Linked DNA regions of Homo sapiens: region 2 is linked to region 1. The links come from fine-mapping of genetic effects on gene expression. A gene starts in region 1. The other region holds a variant in brackets. All regions are shown on one strand. Distances are between the middles of the regions. Region 1 holds the start of IPO8 (importin 8). Region 2 overlaps IPO8 (importin 8).

The links. PIP is the estimated chance that this variant, and not a neighbour inherited with it, causes the effect.
Region 2: its variant is fine-mapped to the expression of IPO8 in cerebellum (GTEx, PIP above 0.99).

The regions. Positions count from the first base shown.
Region 1 is chr12:30,689,538-30,701,146 of GRCh38, reverse strand. IPO8 (importin 8) reads left to right here and starts at 5,278. Exons shown (of 25, transcript NM_006390.4): 1 at 5,278-5,583; 2 at 10,570-10,651. The coding sequence starts at 5,500. RefSeq lists an enhancer at 4,889-5,388 and a silencer at 5,479-5,528.
Region 2 is chr12:30,656,507-30,668,115 of GRCh38, reverse strand. It overlaps IPO8 (importin 8), which reads left to right. Exons shown (of 25, transcript NM_006390.4): 11 at 1,865-1,941; 12 at 2,271-2,387; 13 at 2,807-2,896; 14 at 4,462-4,627; 15 at 5,629-5,789; 16 at 6,850-6,975; 17 at 11,366-11,432. Among named protein-coding and RNA genes, the nearest start is that of IPO8, 34 kb to the left of the region's middle. The variant T/AGT (reference allele first, on the strand shown) is at 5,086.

The DNA of each region.
Region 1 (11,609 bases):
CCATCCCTTTATTTCTTCCTCTTCCACTGGCCATAGCTTCCTGCCTCCCCACTCAGCTCATTGATGAGTTATTCACTGGAAATCTCTAGGCATGTAAACTGTAAGCACTTCTAGTTCAATACATCCAAAGGCTAACTCATCTTTCCTCCAAAATCTAGTTATGTTTTCCCTGGTTAATGACTTCCATAGGTCATCAAAGCTTGAAGCTTTAAAATCATTCTTGACTTACCTTAGTTACTTTGTATACCTAACCCATCACGAATTACTGTTGATTCTTCCTGTGAAATGGCTTATATCTTTTGGCCTTCATGCCTACTGTGGATATCCTGTTTTGGACCCCTTCTCTCTCACATGCATTCACTTACTCATTCAACCAGTGCTGACGGATTGTTTATTGTGTGCCAGGCATAGTGTGAGATGATGTCTGATTCAGCAATTTTGAATAAGGCCTCTCTTCTCTTAAATAGACTACAATGATGTATTTATTGCACATGTCCCATGGGCTTATCTCATCTAGTCCCTAAAACAGCTTTTGGAAGCAGATGAGGAAACAGGCACAGAGAGGGGAGGCATATTTCAAACCATGAAAATACAAGACAATATCACTGGTTCAAATTCTACCTGAAACGAGCTGAGGGCATCAATAAATATAGAAAGCCTCTCATTATGCAAAGTGAAAAAAAAAGATTCAAACAATGAGTCATATGTAAGTTGAACATAAATTATAGTTTAGGGAAAATCATTTTAAAACGCTTGCCAAGAAATCTGAGAGCAGAATCCGAGAGCTCATGGCTTTTTCTGATCTTTCCTGTTTTCTTGGCCACCCCTAATTTGATAGCATTGTATTTTAGTAACTTGTCTTCAGTGAGTCTGTCCAAAGCATACAAAGTTTTCATGGGAACATCAGCTCTTTTTAATTACGTACTTTGGGTAAAATTTTTATTTTGATATAATTGTAGATTCACATGAAGTTGTAAGAAATGATACAGATAGATCCTATGTACGATTTTTCCAGTTTCCTTCAACAGTAACATCTTGTAAAACTATAGTACAACATCACAACTGGGATATGGACATTGATACAGTCAAGAAACGAACATTTCCATCATCAGAATTCCTCATATTGCCCTTCTACAGTCACACCCACTTCCCCCTTGCCACCACCTCCACTTTAACCCTTAGCAACCATGGATCCTTCTATATTTTTTAAATTTTAAGAATGTTATATAAATGGCATTTGACAAGATGCAACCTTTGGGATTGGCTTCTTTCCCTCAGCGTAATTCTCAGAAGATTCATCAAGGTTGCTACATGTATCTTTTTTTTTGTTGCTCAGTAGTATCCCATGGTATAGATGTACCATGTTTATTTAACCATTCACCCACTGAAGGATATCTGGATTGTTTCCAGATTTGGGTTATGATGAATAAAGCTGCATATACACTCACAAGGTTTTTTTTATGAGCACAAGTCTTCATTTGTCTAGGACCAATGCTCTGGAGTGCAATTGCTGTGTCATATGGTAGTTGCATATTCAGTTTTTTAAAGAAACTGCCCAATTGTTTTCAGAAAGGCTGTATCACTGTACATGTTACCACCAACATATAAGTGATCCAGTTTCTGTACATCCTCACCAGCGTTTGGTGGTGTCACCGTTTTTGATCTCTCCTTTTATGTTATTGGAATAACTACCTTAAGTCTCTCCCTTCTCCAATCTATCATCTTCAGTGCTGAGTTCAGTTTTAGACATGTGCCTTAAGTGATTTGAGGGATAGATATTGGTAGAAATGTATAGGCATTTGGATATATTTAGTTTAAGGGAAGAGATCTTACAACTAGTTTTGTAAGCTATCTTTGTTTAGTTGATGGTTAAAGTTATGTAAGTGGATGAAATTACTGAAAAATGGGTGGATGAGAAAGAGAAGATGGCTGAGGACAGAGTCCTGAGAAGCGTCGAAGACTTGGGCGATTGAGTAATCAAAGGGTTAGGAATGTATTCTGTAAGAGAAAACAAGAAAAGAGATAATTTAAAAATAGTATGAAATATGATACCGGATATTAGAGGCTGGGTGTGGTGGCTCACACCTGTAATCCTAATTTGGGAGGCTGAGGCTGCCAGATTGCTTGTGCCTAGCAGTTTGAGACCAGCCTGAGCAATGTGGTAAAACCCTGTCTCTACTAAAAATAAAGCTGGGCGTGGTGGCATGTGCCTGTAGTCCCGGCTACTTGGGAGGCTGAAGTGGGAGAATTACCTGAGCCCAGGAGGTCGAGGCTGCAGTGAGCAGTGATCATGCCTCTGCACTACAACCTAGGCAATGGAAGTGAGACGCCCTCCCCCAATCTCTCAATCTCTCTCTCTCTCTATACATACACACACACACACACACACACACACACACACACACGCGCGCGCGCGCGCGCGCGAGAGAGAGAAAATTTAAGTTGAGAACTAAAAATGTCTCTTGCAGTTGGTATACCCCCTAAAGAGGTCGGTGTTCATCTTTGCTTGGCAGTTTTAGTGGGAAATGAGGGGGAGAAGCCTGGGGATAGGTGGTTGAAGCATGAATGGGAAGTAAGCTGACACAGTGAATGAAGACCATTCTTTGGAATGAAGTGGAAAAGAATGAGCAATAATTAGCATTACTGAAGATTATTTTTTTGCTGGGGGAAATGTTTTTAGGCTGAGGTTGAATCAGTGGAGGAAAAGAGGCTGAAAAAGTACGAAAAAAACTTACACATTGTCAACAATGAGCACATTATAATGACTAAAATTTATTTTAATGAAAAAATGTATTTAAGAGAGGAGAGATTTATGGAACAGGGTCCTGGAGGAGATGGGAGAGAATGGGGTTCAGACTGCAGAGGAGATGAAGAGGGATAAGCGGAGATGAATTTGTTGTTGAGTTGAGCCTGAGGGTTTTGCTCATCTTTGCAGGGTTTGGTGAGAAGGCGTAGGGAGCTTGAGAAGAGTCCTGAGAGTTGAAACGCCACTGAGGGAATGGAAGATGTTGCTGATTAAAGGCAAGGAATAGGAATAGGATGGTTGCATCTGATTAAAGAATACATCTGATATCAGTTTGCACAGTGGGTCAAGGCTAGAGTTAAGAAGCTGAATTGGGGGTTTAATAGCAGAGAATGATGTGTAGTGAGTAATGGATAGACTAAGAACTGAAGTAGTGATTGAATTGGAAAACAAGCTTAGAATTTTTGAGGAAGAGAGAAATGGAAGAATTAGTTCTAATTATAAAAGAGGATATTGGAGTTAAGATTTTCAGAGATAAAAAATTTTTTAGACATTCATGATGTCCAAGAGAGTGGTTTAGTGAAATAGTGTTCATAAGACTCTGGAGTGCTAAGTTTATATTTTATTTTGAAATTGATGAGAAATCAAGGAAGAGACATAGTAATATTAACTTTTCAGAAACTTTCTTCTGATGATAGTGTGAATAATGGATTAAAGAGGGGCAATACTGGAAGCAATTAGACATGTTAAATTCACTGTGAAGCACTTTTGCATCCAACTGAGGGGGAAGCTTTCAAGCCACCAAGTTTTCAGCCACATGTTTTCTACTCTCTCAATTGAACTCAGTTAATTGACCCAATCTATCTTAATTATCTGCTCCTGAAAAGATCACAGCCCCTCAGCTGTGTTTTGCCCACATCATCATCTTTATTAAATGTAATTAGAACCCTCTCTTCTGGGTTAACCTCAGGAAGAACCAGCTCCTTGATATTTTCATGCCATTGAAATTGTGGCGCCAGATATGGCCACAGTGGATAGAAACAGTATAACTTTTCTGCTTACCTTTCACTACATTTTTGAGAAGGTCTGAAAATTTTTCATAAAACTCTCAGGGATGTAGTTTTCAGTTTCTGTGACCTTTGTCTTTCTGAAATGGGAGAGGTTCCCTTGTCCCCCTCACAGGGCGTGCATTGGGGGTGTGGCTCGCTTCTTCAGTGCCCCGCTGCTCAGACCTCTAGAGAAGCATACAGACCGGCAGGCTGTGGGGCTCCGACCCCTTGACAGAGTCTGGGGGTGAATGTTTACAGCTCCTGAAGCCCCAGTGGGTGTGTGTTACAGGATGCTCTTTCAGTTTGCCTTTAGGGGGCTTGTGTTAACCAGCTCAATTAGACCCTCTACCTTGTCGCACAGACAGCGAGCTTTCTGTATCCTGGGTTCTTGCCTTGGTGTACCAGAAGAATTGGATCACACGTGGGCTTGGAGAATGAGTGCAAAGTTTTATTGAGTGGAAGTAGCCCTCAGCAGATGAGGGACCCAGAAGGGAAATGGTTTTCCTCTGGAGTTAGGCCGCTTGGCGGCCCGGGCTCTTTTCCGACTGCCCAGGCCAACCTCCGCATCGTTCTGCCCGTGAATGGCCTGCGGATGTGCCAGCGAGCTCCTCTTCTTCCACCCTTATGCTCCTCTGGACGTCTGGCTGCCTGTGTACCTGCCTGCTAGGGTCTGGGGTTTTCATAGGCACAGTATGGGGGAGTGGCAGGCCAGGGTGGTCTTGGGAAATGCAACATTTGGGCTGGAAGGCAGGAGTGTCAGTCCTCACCTAGGTCGGTGGGCGTGGAGCCCTAGCAAGGGACCACACACTCCTCTACCCAGCACTTCACTTCGCCCATCCCTATCATTTAAAGGGACCACGCTCTTCCCTTCCCAGCACTCCCCTATCATTTCTACACTGTAAATTTTTTTTGTTTATATTTGTCTCATCTATCAGGTTGTGAATTCCTTCACATTAACTTGCATGGAATTCATCTTGTTATAATGTGGTACCTAAAAATCCTAGTACTCTGGTTCAAAAATATATGTTTAACAAATGTTCAGTGAAAGCGAATGAATGAATGAACGATGACTCCCACACACGGAGGAACCCTGTCCTCCTGTAAGGTACATGATTTGAAGGTCCCAACAAGTCTATCTTGGAACAGGCCCAGTTGCGATGCCCATACAGTTCTCGGACTAACAAAAAGTGTCACACCATCCAGATATGCTTAATTTGGAAGCAGCTGTAAGCAGACTCCCGGCCAGCTCAAGTTTCCTCACCTGGGAAGAGGCGGGAGGCTGTTTACCGTACGGAAGCATAGCGGCCGCCTGCCTGAGTTCGGGAGCGCGGGTTCCTTTCCGGGAAAGAAGCCTAGGCCGTTTTCCGTACAGCAGCATGGCGGCCGCCGACGGGAGGCGGTCATAGCATCACGCCCGGGGGAAGAGGCCGCCGTAAAGGAAGCTCTGCTTCCTCTTCTTCCTTCTCCCGCCTCCCACCGGCTGTCGTAAAACGGTGAATGGAGAGCGAGTTGTGGGGGGGAAAAAGGGAGGACAGGGGGCGCGGAGTCAGAGTGGCGCAGCAAGTGGCCGCAGGTGGCGACGGTGGCGGGGGGTGGGGTGTGAGGTAATCCAGGGGTCGCGGAAGAGGAGGCTGAGAGGGTCAAAAGAAAACTAAAGCTGCAGTCCGGCCTACTGTTCCGGGGGCCGCGGAGCCCCCACCCGGGGAGATGGACCTCAACCGGATCATCCAGGCGCTGAAGGGCACCATCGACCCGAAGTTGCGGATTGCAGCCGAGAACGAGCTCAACCAGGTGAGGAGAGGGTCTTCGGCGACCCTCTTCCGCCGAAGGGGCGCCCCTGCCGGCTGGCCGGGCTCCCTCTCCCCGGCGCCCCTCGTCCTCACCCCCACCGGGCTGGGGCTGACGCCTCACGGCTGGTCCCGCTCTCCGACCCCGCTGCCCCCCGGTCCAGTGGAGCAGGGCTCCCAGGATCTTTGCCGAACAGCTCGCGCACCTGTTGGCCACCTTTGCACCTTTTCGTGTCGTCTCCCTTCTCCAGGGCAGTTTGTTCTGCCTACTTGGTCCGCAAGAAGCAGTTTTTGCAACCTGTGCTAGTGTTTTCAGGGTGTGATTTATTTTCCTTAAGTGCGCGGACTTGGGGAGCAGGTGGGAATTTTACTTACAGTTCAAATCTGAGTTCAGCTTTTTTCCAAACCCAGCCCTTTTTAGGTGTTGCTGTGGAGCACGCTGCCCACCGCCTCCTCCTGTCGGGTTGGCAGGACTGTTTTGACACCGATTGGCCGAGTTTTGCGGAGCGCTGGGCAGTGCTGTTGGGAGAGTGCTCTGGGAAGAATAGGCAGTTTTCATGGTGATACTGCTTTATCTAAGACACATCAAAGTAAGATGTGTTGGAGAAATTTCTTATGAATGCTAAAATGTGTAAGACTTCTTTCTTTTCTCCGTCTCCTGTTCTTCCTAATTAGCCTTGACGTCTTTCCAGCGTTACCCCCACACTTCAAAATTTTAATGATCCCAAACTCCAGCTTATTTCTTCTTCCCTACCGGTACTTAAGAATCACAGACCTCTTACTAAAAAGTAGGGATTAAGAGCTACCACTGGGATGGAGCAACAGCTGTTTTAGGTTGTGATGACTTGTAAAATGTAAATATTCCAAAATCAGCTGTTCTCAAAGCGTTGCCCAGGACCTGGAGCTTCAGCATCACCTGAGAACTTACAAATTATGCAAATTACGGGGCTTCAGTCCAGACTTAACGAATCAGAAACTGTGGGGGTGGGACCAGTTGTATTTTAACTAGCTCCCCCAGGTGATTCTGTGCCTCCCGAAGTGTGACTGAAGTGTGACTGTCCTAAGTAAATGTTTCTGTTGGAATTGACTTTAAAAAGCTGCGTGTTGGGAATCTTTGAAAGGGATTATTTTAATAGGAAACCTAGGTGGAGTTTGGAGTAGGTATAAATGCAGGATTCCCCAGAGATAAAAGGGAGAGTGAAGACACTGCCAATGGAGAGGAGGTTGGGTTGAACTAATGCCCAAAGATAATGCACTGGTGCCTGAAAAAGAAATGGACTGTCACTTAGAATAGGGGGAAGTTAAAGTCAGTACCTGTCCCAGGCTTTGCAGAGTAAAAGTACTGTATGTTGGCTGGCTGGAAGAATAGTAATCCAGGGGTTAGTTAGGAAGAACAAAGCAGGAGCTGAATTTGCAGTCTACTAATATGAACAGGGGAGTTGGCCTGTTTATGACCCCCTTCTCACAATGAGGCCAGGTGTTCCTTTGATATCAGGTTACACTTCCCTGCCCTTCACCTAACCTTCATTTCTTTCTGATTCATCAGTATATAAGTACAGTTGATGTTATAGAAGTGGAAAAAGTATATGAGAAAGCCTGCAGAACTAGGAGACATTTAAGACCCAATCCTATTTTTTTTCCCATGGTATTTCAGACAAAAGCAGGCACGTTCAGGGTGGTATGGCCGTAGACTCTTGATGGTAGTTCAATCCAAATCCATTCCATCATCACTCTGCCCTGCCCCATAGTGTCCCACCTCATCACAGACCGTGGTTTCCCCAGCAATTTCTAAAGGTAGCTTATTGCTATACCACTCATTTAGCATTTATAATTTATATAAAGCATAGTGAAATGCTTTAAGGTTTTTTGAATTGGCTGTAAATAGAACAAAATATAATGTCACCTAACAGTGTAGTAAAACATGCTTATGATGATGGGTTTTGCCTGCTTGTCCTTTGCCACCACTGTAACATCCGACTTTGTTGGATAAATGAGTGGGTAAATCACCATAAGTGGTTATGGTCCACCTCTTCGACTTTAGTCTAGGTCTCCCCTCAGCAAGTATGTTCTGCATAGGGAATGGGAGCAGCTTCTGCGGTATACTGATGGATCTGTCAATTGCCGTTTAGAAAAATAAGCAGCTTCTGCACCACAGCCTATATTCCAATGGATAAATTCTCATTTGGAGCTATATATTTTTTTCAGGCCAGCATTTTTCTGTTACTAGTGAGTAGTTTTCTGACTGCTATTTGTGATATTGTTTCTGTGGGAAAATGTATTTGTAGTTTTATCTCAGGATATTGAGCGAACCCTATACATCTTCCTCATTTTCTATAGACCAGAAGTCCCATTAGAGGCAGCATAGAGGAATAGGAATGGGTAGGTACCTTGCTTAAGTAATTCATCCAGAAAGGTGTCCTCTTTTAATAAATTATCCTTCACATGGCCTCGGTAGGGAAATAAGTTTTTACTTTGATTGCCAAGCTTTTGAATCTCTGCTTTCCATGCATGTGTACATGCAATTTTCATTACCCTTTATTAAGATAATTTGTTTATGTAAATAGCACAGAAATATTTATTAAGTTACTATGTTGCAGATATTGGTATAAGAGTTTGTTTCCATGGAGCTGGGGATACAGGCAAGTAACTAATATAATTTCAGGTCATAAGTGCTGTGGAGAGTAAAGCCCGAGCAAGAGTGTTGGGATGTATAGCCATTCTCTGAAGAATGGCATTGAGTAGAGAGTTGGATGTTGTGAAGGAATGGGCCAGGCAAAGAGCAGAGAGAGGAACAACAGTTCAGAAAAGGCCCTCAACTTGGCGTGCTGGAGGACTGAGAGGGAATATCGGTTCAGAAAAGGCCCTCAACTTGGCATGCTGGAGGACTAGAAAGGTTAATGCAGCGGAGCAGTGAGTCAGAGGATGGGAGGAGACATCAGTTTTTTGCTTTATGAGTTCTCATAAATGCAGAATTTAGTTAAGCAAACTGCGTATTTGCAGAAAACTTCACAGATACAAAATATCCTCAGGAAATCATTGAGAAATTAGTCTTATTTATTTTTTAGAAACTCGAAGCCTGAAGAGGCACAAAGAAATTGAGTAACTATTTCTGAGTAAAGTAGTATGAAAATATATCTGACTATATCTCTGAATGTTTTAGCTGGCCAAGTTAATATAGAATGAATCAATGCTGAAAGAAGACAAGGTTTCTGAAATTTTTTAAAATGGCAAACAGTTGCAAAAAGAGGAGTTTCAAAATCTGTACAATGGCAACAGTGTTGACATAAAAGTCTCTGCAATAGGTATATTACTTTCAAATAAGTAGCATTTATTTAAGTGTAAAGGTTATTTTGTATGTGTGGAATAAGATTTTTAAACAAATAACGGAAGTCAGTTTTTTTATGATTAGAATAAACTATATAGATGTTTTAATCTTTGATTCATGACAAGATCTTTCAGTATTTACAAAGATAAACATGAGTTATAATACATATGTAGAAGGTGAAGGCTGGGTGAATCTGTGTTAATTTTGCCTCCTATCAACGGTTGTTAGAACAAATCTGTTTTCTTAAAAACTGCTTTGAAATTCTGATGGTTTCAATTATGGATAAAAAAGAATTTACATGCCACAGATTTGTGATCTGAAGACTACACAGGATGAAAGGAAGAAAATTATAATTCAAAATTTTGTGAAGGATATAGAAAGATTGGGAAAGCACAATGTTCTTGGATGAAAAAGATTAATATTTTTAAAATGCCAGTTGTGTCCAAATTAATTTTTTAATCAAACACTTACCTTCATAGATGTGATTTTAATTTAAAAAAATGAATAATATGCCCAAACCTAGCTGTGTATTGAAAGGGATGCCCCCACAGATCCAGGCTCTGAGGAGAGGGGTGAGCTGAACAGACTCTCTGGGTCATTGTCTGGTTTGGCCTCACTGGAATTTGAGTCTTTTCAAATGAATGTCAGTGGACAAAGGCATATGTGGACTCTGGAATGTGACAGGACTGTAATATAGTCCAGGTACTGTACATCTGGATATAACGTGATCAGAAGGAGTGGATGCTCTGTATTTTTTTGCTTTGAAGGTCCCCATCGCCAAACTCAGGAGCAGATCATAGTAGAGCACACCTGTGGGGTGAAGTGACCCAGGCCACAGGGCAGAGCAGGAGCTTCATCCCCACAGGCTCACTTAGGCATTAAGTGTAAAAGATAGTACAGCAGTAGAGGGCAGCTGGTGATGACAGTGTGCTCAACCCCATCTCGTGAGTCACACTGTTCCAATCTGGACTGGCTTCTCTCCATTGCTCACGCTCAACTTTGTAACATTATCTTCTCTGTTTTGCTCTGTTGGGTCTCCTATTTCCTGTAGCCTTTGTTTTTTTGTTTTCTGTTTGTCAAAAATACCATAAACAAAATTGAAGCACAAATAATCTAGGAAGAAATACTTGCCATGTATAGGTCAAATAAAAGATTGAGATTTTAAATTCATAAATAGCTCTTAGAATTTATTAAGAATAAAGCAAATACTCCATTTACAAAAGGATAAAGGGAGTAAGGAATTTGTAGAAAAAACAGCCAACAAAGAGGAAAACACCCAACCTCCTTAGTAATAGAGAAAATGCAATTTAAAACATTAATAAAATTTTAAAGTTTCAAAGGAATGATGATACCTGTATTAGATAGATGGACACTACCATATGCTGCTGTTGGGAGTGTAAATTGGTATACTACTTCTGGAGACCATTCTGACAATATGTTAAAAAAAATCATAAAAATGTTCACATTCTTTTATTCATCAGTTTCTGCTCAGGAAATTTTTTTGACTTGAAGTATTTTAGTAATCTTCATTTTGCCTTGAAGGGTTTGTCTCAGTTTAAAAGTTTTTCTTTTATTTGGACAGTAATGTATTCAGTAACCGGTGCTAACTTATAAGCTACTCACTTATATTGCCCTATTTTATAAAACATTTCTTTGTAATTTCAGTCCTACAAGATTATCAATTTTGCCCCCAGTTTACTTCGGATTATAGTCTCTGACCATGTGGAATTCCCAGTACGACAGGCAGGTGAGTTGGTTTTTTATCCTTTATAAATTTATTTATAGGTGAGAGTAGAATGAGAGTTTTATTTTAATTTTACATATCTGTAATTTATTGAAAAATTCAGAAGCACTAGCACTCATGAAGTATTTCCAGTGACTTCAAAACTCACTTTCTTTTTCCCCAGAAATTTAGAGGTAGATACTGAGCTCTCAAATATCTTCTAGCTCTTTTTTTTCCTCCTCTCCCTTTTACCCACCAATTCCTTGCCTCTGTAACTTTGCCCTTATTTTTCTCAATTTTAATAGCTGATCTCTCTAACGTTTTATGATTTCTGGTAGCCTAGCCTCTGGGCCCATAGATTAAGACCATGAATTTATATATGTGAATTCGAGCTCTGTTACGTGGCAAATCATGGAGGTAATGTGTTGCACAGATGTTCCTAACCCAGGTGACTGCGGAGCAGGACTATGTTTTAAACATGAAACTTACTTTTAAGTCTGTGGGATCTTACGTTGTTTCATGATGTTGTACATCGTTCTTTTATCTTGTTTTTTTATGGACTGGTCATTAGAGCCCAGAAGGTTAAAAATTAGAGCCTTAGAGTATCATGAATTTTCAAAAGATAATAATCAAAAGCTAAAGGAGGTAAACGACAATAGCTAATTAAAAATAAGTATTTAAAAAGACTTGTTATGTAAGTGACATATACATGTAAGTAATTTGGACAATTTAGAAGAATACAAAGAAGGAAGTAAAACTACCCAACATTCATCACTCAGAAATGGCCATCATTACTCATCATTAACGTTAGGTGAACATTAGCCTTTCCATGTGTTCACGTAGAAGGATAGATGAACAGTTTCAGAGAAATGGGTCATAATCTACATGCTGATGAAAGTATTTAATTTGATTTGAACATAGAATAAAAAGATAAAGAAATATTAAGCTTTGGGAAGATTTATAACACTATATATGATTTCCT
Region 2 (11,609 bases), 33 kb after region 1:
TTCTAGTTTGCTTTGAGTGATTAGCCAACCATTCTTCTCTCTCTCTCTCTCTCTCTTTTTTTTGTTCCAGTGACTCTCCCACCTCAGCCTCCAAGTAGTTGGGGCCACAGGCATGTGCCACCACACCTGGCTAATTATTTTTTGCAGAGACAGGGTCTCCCTGTATTTCCCAGGCTGGTTTCGAACTCCTGGCTTAAGTGATCCTCTTGCCTTGCAAGGCATTCTTTTAGTGTTTACTTCTTTCATAATACCTATGTGTTTTTGTGATGTACAGAGTATTTGTTTAGCTTTCAGAAAGTTACCATTATTTATATATTCTTCATATCTGATAAGATAGGTATACATACCCTAGTTTTTAGAAAATAAGAACTCTATGTCTGTTGATTAACAGTGGGAATTTACATTTTATTGTTTAAAAGCGGATATGGGTAACTCAAGACTGACTAGCTGAAGTGAGTTTTCTTTAATCGTTTCCTTCTGTAGACTGGAATGCAGTGGCTTTTATTTGATATGTGTATTTTACTTTTGGGTAACCATAGGGAAGAACAATTACTGCATTTTCTTTTTATATGTTTGGCACTTGCAATTATTTACGTGAAACAAAGCATTCCTATCTAAATGTATTGACTGATTAATAATAATGTTTTAGTTTATTCTTTTTATCTACTCTTTAACCAACATCTCCTCACTTCCCCCAATAATGTTTTTTGATTTGGTAAGAACTAACAAGAGCTCAGGCTTTGATGTTAAGATAGCGTGGGTGTGAATGCTGGTTTGGTCACTTACCTGCTGTGTGACTGTGGACAGGTTACTTAACCTCTCTAAAATTCAGTGCTTTCAGCTGTCAAACGGGTGATGATAATAGTGCTGGGAGGATTAAATGGGATAATACACATGAACTAACTGCTTAGCATAGAATACAAGATGCTTCTAAAACTGTAGCATACTGCTTGGCACAGAGTAAGTACAGTACTCCAAAAATGTTCTTATTATGTTTGTATTTTATATTTTGAGGTAGACTTAGATTTGGTTTTATCTTTTGTATTTAAACAAGGACTTATCAGATACCTCTCAAGACTTCAGTTTCTTATGTAAAACTGCCTATTCTGAAACTTGTGAAAATGTTCATGGTATTAAGTGATATGTTAAGTTTTAGATAGGTATATATTCAACAAAACCTGCTGAACTTACGTATCGACAGAGCCAGGCATGGTCCTAGCAGTCCTTCAAGGCTTTTATACTTGCTGTTTCACCTGCTTGGAGTACTTTATCCATGGATTGCTTTCTCCCTCATTTCATTCAATTTCTGCTTAAATGTTACCTTAACAGAGTTGGAGAGGCTTTTGCTAACACCCTATTTAAACTAGCACCCCATACTCTGTCACTCTGTCTCTTTACCCTATTTTACATTTGTTCTTAGCCTGACTTATTATGTGTGTATATATGTATAATGTGTTTCTTTGTTTCACGACATAAGCTCCGTGAGAACCTTTTTGTTTGATCTTTGTATCCCCGGGGTCTAGAATGGTACCTGGCACATAGTAAGAGCTGAGTGAATTTTTGTTGTTTTTTGATAGAAATAAAGCACTTTTTCTGTTCTCAGTGAAACAGATGTGTAAATGCATTGTTTTCTTCAATATAATAGTTTGAAAGGACAACCTGTAGAGTTTGAGGAACATTGTTTTGTGCAGGAGACAGCAATGTTGTGGTGCCACTGTATATCCTTACCTTTTTAGTACTGTCAAGCAGTGTCATATGTGGATGGTTTTATTTTTTTGGTTTGGAATAGCGGTCAGTCAGGTTTAAAATCTAGAATAAGTAATTATATTTTCACTAACATGGTTTTAACCTTTTAAAATCTTAGATATTTTTGAAGATTATGCTTCTCCCACCACAGCAGCCCAGACTCTCTTATATACTGCTGCAAAGAAAAGAAAAGAGGTATTTCATTTTTCTTTTTAAATCCAAAACTGAAAGGTGGCCTGTGTTGAGTTGATACTCTAGTATATCCCTAGTATTTGAGAAATTATGTTGTTATTCGTTATAATTTGTCACCTTAAGGATTTTTTTTTTCCTCTCCTGGTGAGGGGAAAGGGGGTATCATGGTTATTTCGTTTTCTTAATAAATTATACTTTTCTTATTGAGCTTATAGTTGCTTGATAAAACATAATAAAATGGCTTTATTTTTAAAAATTTGTGCATCATAGTTAATACTATAGTAAGACAATGAAAGTTCATGTAGACTAAATGGATTCTTCTGTTTCTTTAGGTGTTGCCAAAAATGATGGCATTCTGTTATCAAATCCTGACAGACCCGAACTTTGACCCTAGGAAGAAAGATGGAGCCCTGCATGTGATTGGTTCCCTAGCTGAGATTTTACTGAAGGTTAAGATAATCAAAATTTAATTTACTTAATAACATTGTAAAGTACAGGCAAATGAGAGAATATGAAAGTTATGGCTAATTTAAAGCTGGTGACTACCTCTGGATAATTGAGTTCACAACTATCCTCCTTTCTGTCATCTATTTCTTTAATTAAAAAGAAAATTTGACTGTTTAAAGTTTTCAGTATGAAACTATTGATATGTGAAAGGGATACAAAGTATCTTATGTCTACAAAATCAATCAATATCAAACTGATATAAGGTAATATTTGTCTTGTTTTAAAACATGCAATATATAGGTCAAATAATTTTACAAAATTAGAAGTATATTAAATGCAAGTCATAGTAAACACACTTGATTAGGAAGTGATTCTTACGTATGAAAAAGAAATTGATAAGTTGAAATTTGTTTCCTAATAGAAGAGTTTATTCAAGGACCAAATGGAGCTGTTTCTACAAAATCATGTATTTCCATTATTATTGTCTAACCTGGGATATCTTCGAGCTAGAGTAAGTTTTTCATATTTCTGTTATGTATCTTAAATCTTCATAAGATAATTATTCAAATAAATGTTTTTTGGATAAATTGACCTTTTGCCACATATTGAGATGAAATAGAGTCAATTAGAATGTCTGCCTATGGTCACATCAGCTGAATAAAGGACAGACTATTAAAGAAAAAGATTTATAGGCTGGGCGCAGTGGCTCATGCCTGTAATCCCAGCACTTTGGGAGGCTGAGGTGGGCGGATCACTTGAGATCGGGAGTTTGAGACCAGCCTGGCCAACATGGTGAAACCCTGTCTCTACAAAAATACAAAAAATTAGCTGGGCTTCATGGCAGGCGCCTGTTATCCCAGCTACTAGGGAGGCTGAGCCAGGAGAATTGCTTGAACCCGGGAGGCGGAGGTTGCGGTGAGCTGAGATCGTGCCACTGCACTCCAGCCTGGACAACAGTGAGACCCTGTCTCAAAAAAAAAGGAAAATATTTATGGATTTTATTTCCTGCTGGTTTTATTTCATTTGTCACCCTAGCCTCACTTGCTGCATATGTAAAACATGAAATGAGAAAGGTGATTTTATAGCAGTGATACAATTTAAATTCACAAATGGATTTATTTTGTGTATAAAATGACATGAAATTCCAGATTGGCTAAGAACTTGAATTTGATTTTCAGTATATTAGGTAGATTTGCCTTAGTAAAATGGAGAGATTAATAATCCATGTGAAATTGTGCTCTATGTGTATATTCTTTTAGAATCAATATATTTTATGGAGAAATAGAAACAGGACTTTTATTCAAGAGCCTAGCATTTCTCTTTATAAATATATCAACACAAAAATGTCTTGCTAAAAACAACATATATTAACAATGCCTTGTACACTAGAAAGCATTTTATAAAATAATAGTTACTAGCGCAATATCTGGGCAAATGTGGACTAGGGACGCTGAGGGCACATGAGCATTTTTACAGTGGGGCTCCTACCTTTGAGAAGTTATATGAATTGTGATTCTCTTGCTAAAAGTCTTTAGTAACTAGAATTAATTTCTGTTGATTGTGTTTGATGCACACAGAGAGTAAAATATAATAATGATTCTGTGGTCTAATAGTTAAAATGTGATCATCTATACCAGGTTTAAAATTTTTGGTACCTATGAGAGTGAAAAAAAGGAAGCTTACTAAACCAGTTAGTGTAAGGGAAAATAATGTTTTACCTAAGTGTGACAAATGAATTTCAGATACTGGTTTGGAGTTGCTTTTACATATAACAAATTAATTATGAGTTATAATATTTATTAAAAGCGTAAATAGATTTTTGTCAAAGACATATTTGGCTTCTTTTTCTCTTTCCTATGAAAAATGTTATTGCATATGGGTAATTTAGAAGTAATGAAAATGCCTTACTTGTAAAAAGGGGGATGTAGAAGTTAGAAACTAAGGCTACTGTGTTACCCCAAAAGCAAACATTTCTTCATAGAATTGATATTTTACTAAGAAGTTCTTATATCTGTGATATTATTACAGAATGCTATAATCCTAATAGCTCCCTACTTACCTTTTTTAATAATACAGTCTTGCTGGGTACTTCATGCATTTAGTTCTTTGAAGTTCCATAATGAGCTCAATCTAAGAAATGCCGTTGAATTAGCGAAGAAGAGCCTGATTGAAGATAAAGAGATGCCTGTCAAAGTTGAAGCTGCCCTTGCTCTTCAGTCTTTAATTTCTAACCAGATACAAGGTAAAGCCAAAATACCTTTTAGACATCTTCTCAAATAATTTCATTTACTTTCTTCCCTAATGAAGATGCATCTCCATGTCTGAGGGTTCAGGGTTTGGAATTCTGAGGTTTTGCCCTCTCAGAATTTTGTAGGAATTTATTCTTGTCCTTTTTAGGTGTTCCTATTGACTGTAGTTTTCAGAATTTTAGGTTAGGAAACATGTTAATCATTGTGGGGCCCTAGGATAGGCTGGGCATAAAGAGACCTGGGCCCAGTTTTGATTTTGCTCCTAACTTGCCATGGAAACCTGGGCAAGGTGTGTGATCTGTCAAGGCTCAGGTTTCCACATATTTAAGTTTAGGGGAGTTGGACTGAATGACTTCATGATTCCTTTCACCTCTGGGATTCTGATTCCCCTAGTTTTGAAAGTAGCAAGTAGTATTTCTAGTGAGTGATAACAGACGTCTCATTTGTTCAG[T/AGT]GTTCTGATCAAAGTTCAAATAAACCTTTGAAAGTAAGTTCAGCTTTATGAAGAACGTGAACGTAGTTTGCCTCTATTCAGCAATGTTTCAGTGGGAGGATTGGATATTGTACACATGGCAAGGGAGGGTGGTAGAGATGGCCTGGGGCAGGGAAGGGGCCCCATCAGTATTCGGGATAGTCTTCACGTACATGATTTTTTATAACTTGTCATGAGAACTGATTCATGTTTTCCAAGTCATTCTGATGACCAAGTGTATGTATAATTAGAATTTCTCAGTGGGGGCTATTAGTATTTTGGGATAGTTTCTGCACAGGACAGTTCTCTCCTGTGCAGGACTTCTTATCCTTATATTACTCTTGGGAAACTGATATATTGGTGAACATTATTTAGGTACAGCTTTGTAACTTACCACAGAGCAAGTGTGTATCTAGAACCTGATTTAGGTATTACCCTGGGTCACTTGACCTTGTGACCAAGTTAATTCCTTTTATCATCTGGGCATGGTAATTTTTATTACTTTTGTTTGTTTTATTGAATTAGCTAAGGAATATATGAAGCCACATGTGAGGCCTATTATGCAGGAACTGTTGCACATTGTTAGAGAGACAGAAAATGATGATGTTACTAATGTCATCCAGAAGATGATATGTGAATACAGTCAAGAGGTAGCCTCAATTGCTGTTGATATGACCCAACACTTGGTAAGACCGGGCAGTTTTATGTTAATTTGGTTTAGAAACCTTGAGTAATCTAAATAAACTCCAAAATATGGAGTTCAGTTTTATTTGTACAGTCATGTGCTGCTTAACAACATTTCAGTCAATGACAGATTGCATATACGATGGTGCACTCCTAAGATTATAATACCGTATTTTTACTGTACCTTTTGTATGTTTAGATACAAATAATTCCATTGTGTCATGATTGCCTAAGTATTCACTACATTAGCAAACTGTATAGGTTTGTGGCCTTGGAGCAATAGGCTATGCCATCTAGATTTGCCTAAGTACATTCAATGATGTTCAAGCAAGGATGAAATTGCCTAACGACACATTTCTCAAAATATATCCATGTTAAGCGATGCATGACTGTAACTGAAATATTGATAAAAAAATTATTCTGATATTACTATAGTTCATTAGACTTTAATCACATTTAGGATAATTTCTTTCATCTAGAATATTCTGAAATTTTATAATATGTGCTTTCTAAAGTTTTAATTTCTGGGCTTTGAATCAGGAAGCTCATTTCCTTCAGTTTGGGGCAATTTATTGTTTTACTTTTTTGATAAATTTCTCCTTACTATTTTTTTTTCTGTTTGTATTTCCTGATATGGAGAATCACATCTGGACTGTGTCTCTTAATTTTTTTAAAAACTTTTCCTCCTGTTTTCCATGTCTGTTTTTTTTTTTTGTTTGTTTCATTTTCTAAGTGATTCCTCGACTTCTCAATCTTCTATTGCATTTTTCTTTTTACTATTACTTGATTTCACTTGTCCTAGATTGTGATTTTACTTGCTTAGTGACAACCAGAAGTTAAATATTAGCTCTCTGGATATAATAGTTAATGTAAATAGCTATATTTAAAACATGACAAGTTCTGTTATTTTAAGAAGAGAGATGATTCAGTCAGCAAAGTGCAGACTTCAAAGTTTGAGCAATGCAGACTTCAGATGTGTGACACTGCCATTTTGCTAACTTTTGTAAAGCGGGGACGTAACAGTACTACTAATTGCGGAATACTTTAATGTTATTTTCATAGGCTGAGATATTTGGCAAAGTTCTTCAAAGTGATGAATATGAAGAAGTTGAAGACAAAACAGTAATGGCTATGGGAATTTTACATACCATTGATACTATCTTAACAGTTGTAGAAGATCATAAAGAGGTGAGATTTCTTTGTGGTTTATGATATAATAGTAGCATTTAACTGAAATTTATGTGATCAGTGGCCATGAATTTTGAAGTCTCCACTTTTAAATTGCTACTTAGTTATGTTGCTAGGCTTTAAAAATTGCCCTCACATTTTATGGAAACATATTAAAATGACTGAGTAACATTATAATATTACATCATAATATTTGTAATATTATAATGTAAATATTATAAAGTATATAGTATATCCCTTTATATTAACTTGAGTTCAGTTAATCATATCTGCTATGTGCCAGGCTAGGTTCTTGGGGAATACCAAATTGAATAAGAAATGAGCCCAGCTTTCTGGGAACCAACAATCTAGAATTCTTGGTAGAGAGTGACAGACAGCAGTTCAATCACAGTGGCAAGTGTTAGGTAATGGAACAGAATTCTGATATAACAAGTACTGTAAAAATGGAAAGGAATAAATGAAAGAGCTGAAAAGCATATTTACTCAACTGAATTCCAAAGTGTTATTGGGATAAGACTTTATACAGCTATTTATCTAGTGCTTTCACATCCATCAGCTGATATGATCTTACTGGTGCCACCATGACATAGCTAGCACAGGTAATGGTAGTCTGTTTTGCAGAAGCAGAAAACAAAGTTCAGGTGGATTTAAGAAACTTGCTCATGGTCCCAGAGCTAGTAAGTTGTACATTTGGGTTTGTAGTCACATCATTTTGATAATGTATCAGTTTATCCCCATTTAAAACCTACAGCTGCTTCCCAAGTATCCCATGGCCTCTCCTTAACTCAAATTAGATTTTTGTTCATTGCTTCTGTGAGTGCAAGTTGACTTGTTTGGCACTGATGGCAATTATTGTTTTACAAGGTGAGCACTTAGGAAGCAGGTGCTAGTACTACTTTTATTTGTTTATTTAATTTTTTGAGACAGTCTCACTCTGTCACCTAGGCTGGCGTGCAGTGGCATGATCTTGGTTCACTGCAACCTCCACCTTCCGGGTTCAAGCAATTCTCCTGCCTCAGCCTCCCGAGGAGCTGGGACTACAGGTGTGTACCATCACACCCAGCTAATTTTTATATTTTCAGTAGAGATGGGGTTTCACCACGTTGGCCAGGCTGGTCTTGAACTCCTGACCTCAGGTGATCCACCCGCTTCAGCCTCCCAAAGTGCTGGGATTAAAGGCATGAGCCGCCATGCCTGGCTGCTACTACTACTTTAAATAGCATTGTTAAACCATGTAGCTGTTGGGTTTTTTTTTTGATTTTGTGGGTTTTTTTTTTTTTTGTTTTGAGACAGAATCTCACTCAGTCACCCAGGCTGGAGTGCAGTGGCTCAGTTTCTGCTCACTGCAAGCTCCGTCTCCTGGATTCACGCCATTCTCCTGCCTCAGCCTCCCGAGTAGCTGGAACTACAGGTGCCCGCCACCATGCCCAGCTAATTTTTTTGAATTTTTTTTATTAGAGACGGGGTTTCACCTTGTTAGCCAGGAGGGTCTCGATCTCCTGACCTCGTGATCCGCCCACCTCGGCCTCCCAAAGTGCTGGGATTACAGGTGTGAGCCACCGTGCCCAGCCGTAGCTGTTGGTTTATCCTGTGTTTATGACGTGCCAATGGAAGATGACTTGGTTTTTTTTTTTTTGTTTATTTGTTTGAGACAAGTCTTGCTCAGAGACAAGTCTTGCTCTGTTGCCCAGGCCGGAGTGCAGTGACACAATCTCAGCTCACTTCAACCTTGGCCTCCCGGTTCAAGTGATTGTGCTGCCTCAGCCTCCCGAGTAGCTGCCTGCCACCACGCCAGGCTAATTTTTGTATTATTAGTGGAGAAGGGGTTTCACCATGTTGGTCTGGCAGTCCTGGAACTGCTGACCTGAAGTGATATGCCCGCCTTGGCTTCTGAAAGTGCTGGGATTATAGGCATGAGCCACTATGCCCGGCTGACTTGGTTCTTAAAAATGGCTTGATAAGGCCCGGCGCGGTGGCTCATGCCTGTAATCCCAGCACTTTGGGAGGCTGAGGCGGGTGGATCACGAGGTCAGGAGATCGAGACCATCCTGGCTAACACAGTGAAACCCCATCTCTACTAAAAATACAAAAAATTAGCCTGGCGTGGTGGCGGGCGCCTGTAGTCCCAGCTACTTGGGAGGCTGAGGCAGGAGAATGGCATGAACCCGGGAGGCGGAGCTCGCAATGAGCCGAGATCATGCCATTGCACTCCAGCCTGGGGGACAGAGCGAGACTCTGTCTCCAAAAAAAAAAAAAAAAAAAAAGGCTTGATACTCTTCTGGACTAGTCTTCATTTGCCTAAAGGGCTTAATTTTTATTTTCATTTTCATTATTTTATTTTTGTGTCCTTCTGTATTGAAACTAAATGGTCCTCTTGGTAACAGTGAGATGTTCCAAATTAAATTACAAGTAAATTTAAGGGATAGTTCTTTTGTCTTATACTTAGGACTTGTATTTTAAATTTGAAGAGACCTTAGAAATCACCTTATCCAGTTTTCACAAGTGTGTGTGGGGCGTAGTAGAATGAGCTGCAGGGGTAGTTTAAAAACAAAACAGCATCTTTTCTGTTTTTATTTTTTCTCTTGATATTAAATTTATTTTGAATTCCAAATAATGTTAAAGGGACAGGTGAACTTATTGTGATTATCAAGAGAGGCATGGGTGAAAATTGAGACACACTAATATAGCATCCTTACCTAAAGACAAAAAAAACCTAAAGCCTTCAGCTAAATGGCTTTACCAAGGCCATGAATAATTACAGGCAAAACCAACCGGAATCTTCGTCTCTTGACCAAGATTTTGAGCTTTAACTTATTAAAAGCAAACTTTGAAAACAATATTTCCTTAAAAGGAAAAACCACATTTATGAAACACTGACAAATAGTGTATGAAACACAAAATTGTGAATCTAAAATAGGTGCTTAAGCATATGCATTTTTGTTTAATGGTTTTAAGCATATTGACAGTTTTTTAAAGTGGGAAATTTTGGATCATTTGAACCTTAAGACAGTAGTTTAAGTTGAATATTAGAATATACTTGATGGTTGAAATAGGACATTTACACGAAAAATGTAACCCGTCATAGATTTTAACTTATTTTAAAATATTTGATACCAACATATGTTGAAAAATTCAAAAGATGTGAAAAGAAAATTCAGTGAAATTTTACCTTCTCACTCAACTCCCCAGCTATCTAATTCTCCTCTCTGGAAGCAGCTATTTTTTTCCTTTTTTTTAAACCAGGTTTTCGGGTCCTTCTAGAGATTTTTCTATTAACATATAAGCAAAAAGTGAATGTGTATATTTTTCTTTTACGAAAATGATAGCATGCTATACACAGTTTTTATTTGCCATTTTTAACTTAATATATCTTGATGATCCTTCCATGTCAATCAATAAAGTTATATATTTTTAATGGTTGCTTAATATTCCCTTGTATGATGTGTCAAATTTATTTCACCAGTCCCGGTTTAGTGGATATAATTTAACTGTCTCTTGTTTAAATGGGCATTTGATTGCTAGTAATCACAAACATTGCTGAAATGAATGAATGGCCTTTTATGTGTCATTTTGCACACATAATATGTGTGAAGGGTAAATCCCTTGAAGTGGAATTGCTGGTTTGCATCGTCATTTGTATGGGTAAGTTTGAAGGATGTTGCCAACTTGTCCTTCATTGTGTATACCATTTACACTCCAGAAATCAATATACAACAGGGTCTTTCTTCCCAGCCCCATAATTGTGATCATTTCCAGTCTTAATAGGTGAAAATTGTTAATGTTGCACTTGGAATTTGTACTCTTACCATGTATTATAACGAACATCTTTTTATAAACACAGGCAAAGATTATAAAAAAAGAAACACATTTGTTTTCTATTGTATTTCAATTTTTAAAAATTCACTAATTTTATGTAAGGGGAATTTGATCTTTGTGATACCATTTGAAAATATTTCACTCATTTTTTTTTACTTCCCCATGCCCCATGCAAAATTCTTTAATTTTTTAGTCAGATGATTTCATTCTTTTCATTTCTTATTTCTGGGCTTTGAGTCACTTTCCCTTTTCAGGATTATACAATAATTCTTTTTATTCTATTTTTTTATGGTTTATTTCTTCACACTGAAATCTTTTATCTATTAGGAATTTATTTTGGTATAAAATATATGGTAAGGAACTAATATAAATTGTTATGGATTTTACCCCCATTTCTGTCAGTCTATTTTTCAAAATTTTCTGATTATTCTTGCATGTTTAGTTTTTCACATGAAGTTTAGAATTGTCAAGTTACCGTCTCAAAAATGTCCTCTTGATATTTTTATTGGCACAATATTAAATTTATGTATTAATTATGATAATTTTAAGCTTAATATTTAACATTTATCTTTAGATTACCCAGCAGTTAGAGAATATCTGTCTACGGATCATTGATCTTGTTCTGCAGAAACATGTAATTGGTAAGTTCAAAGGTTAAATAAAAAGATAAATTGAAAAAATTTTAAAAATTTGAACTCAAAGTATAATTTTAGCCCTTCAGATTTAACAAGATGGACAATTTTGAGAAAGAGAAGCATAATCACTTCAATTTTTGGATGTCCTTTCTAGTGTTAAATATCTGTATTTTCATTCAGAGA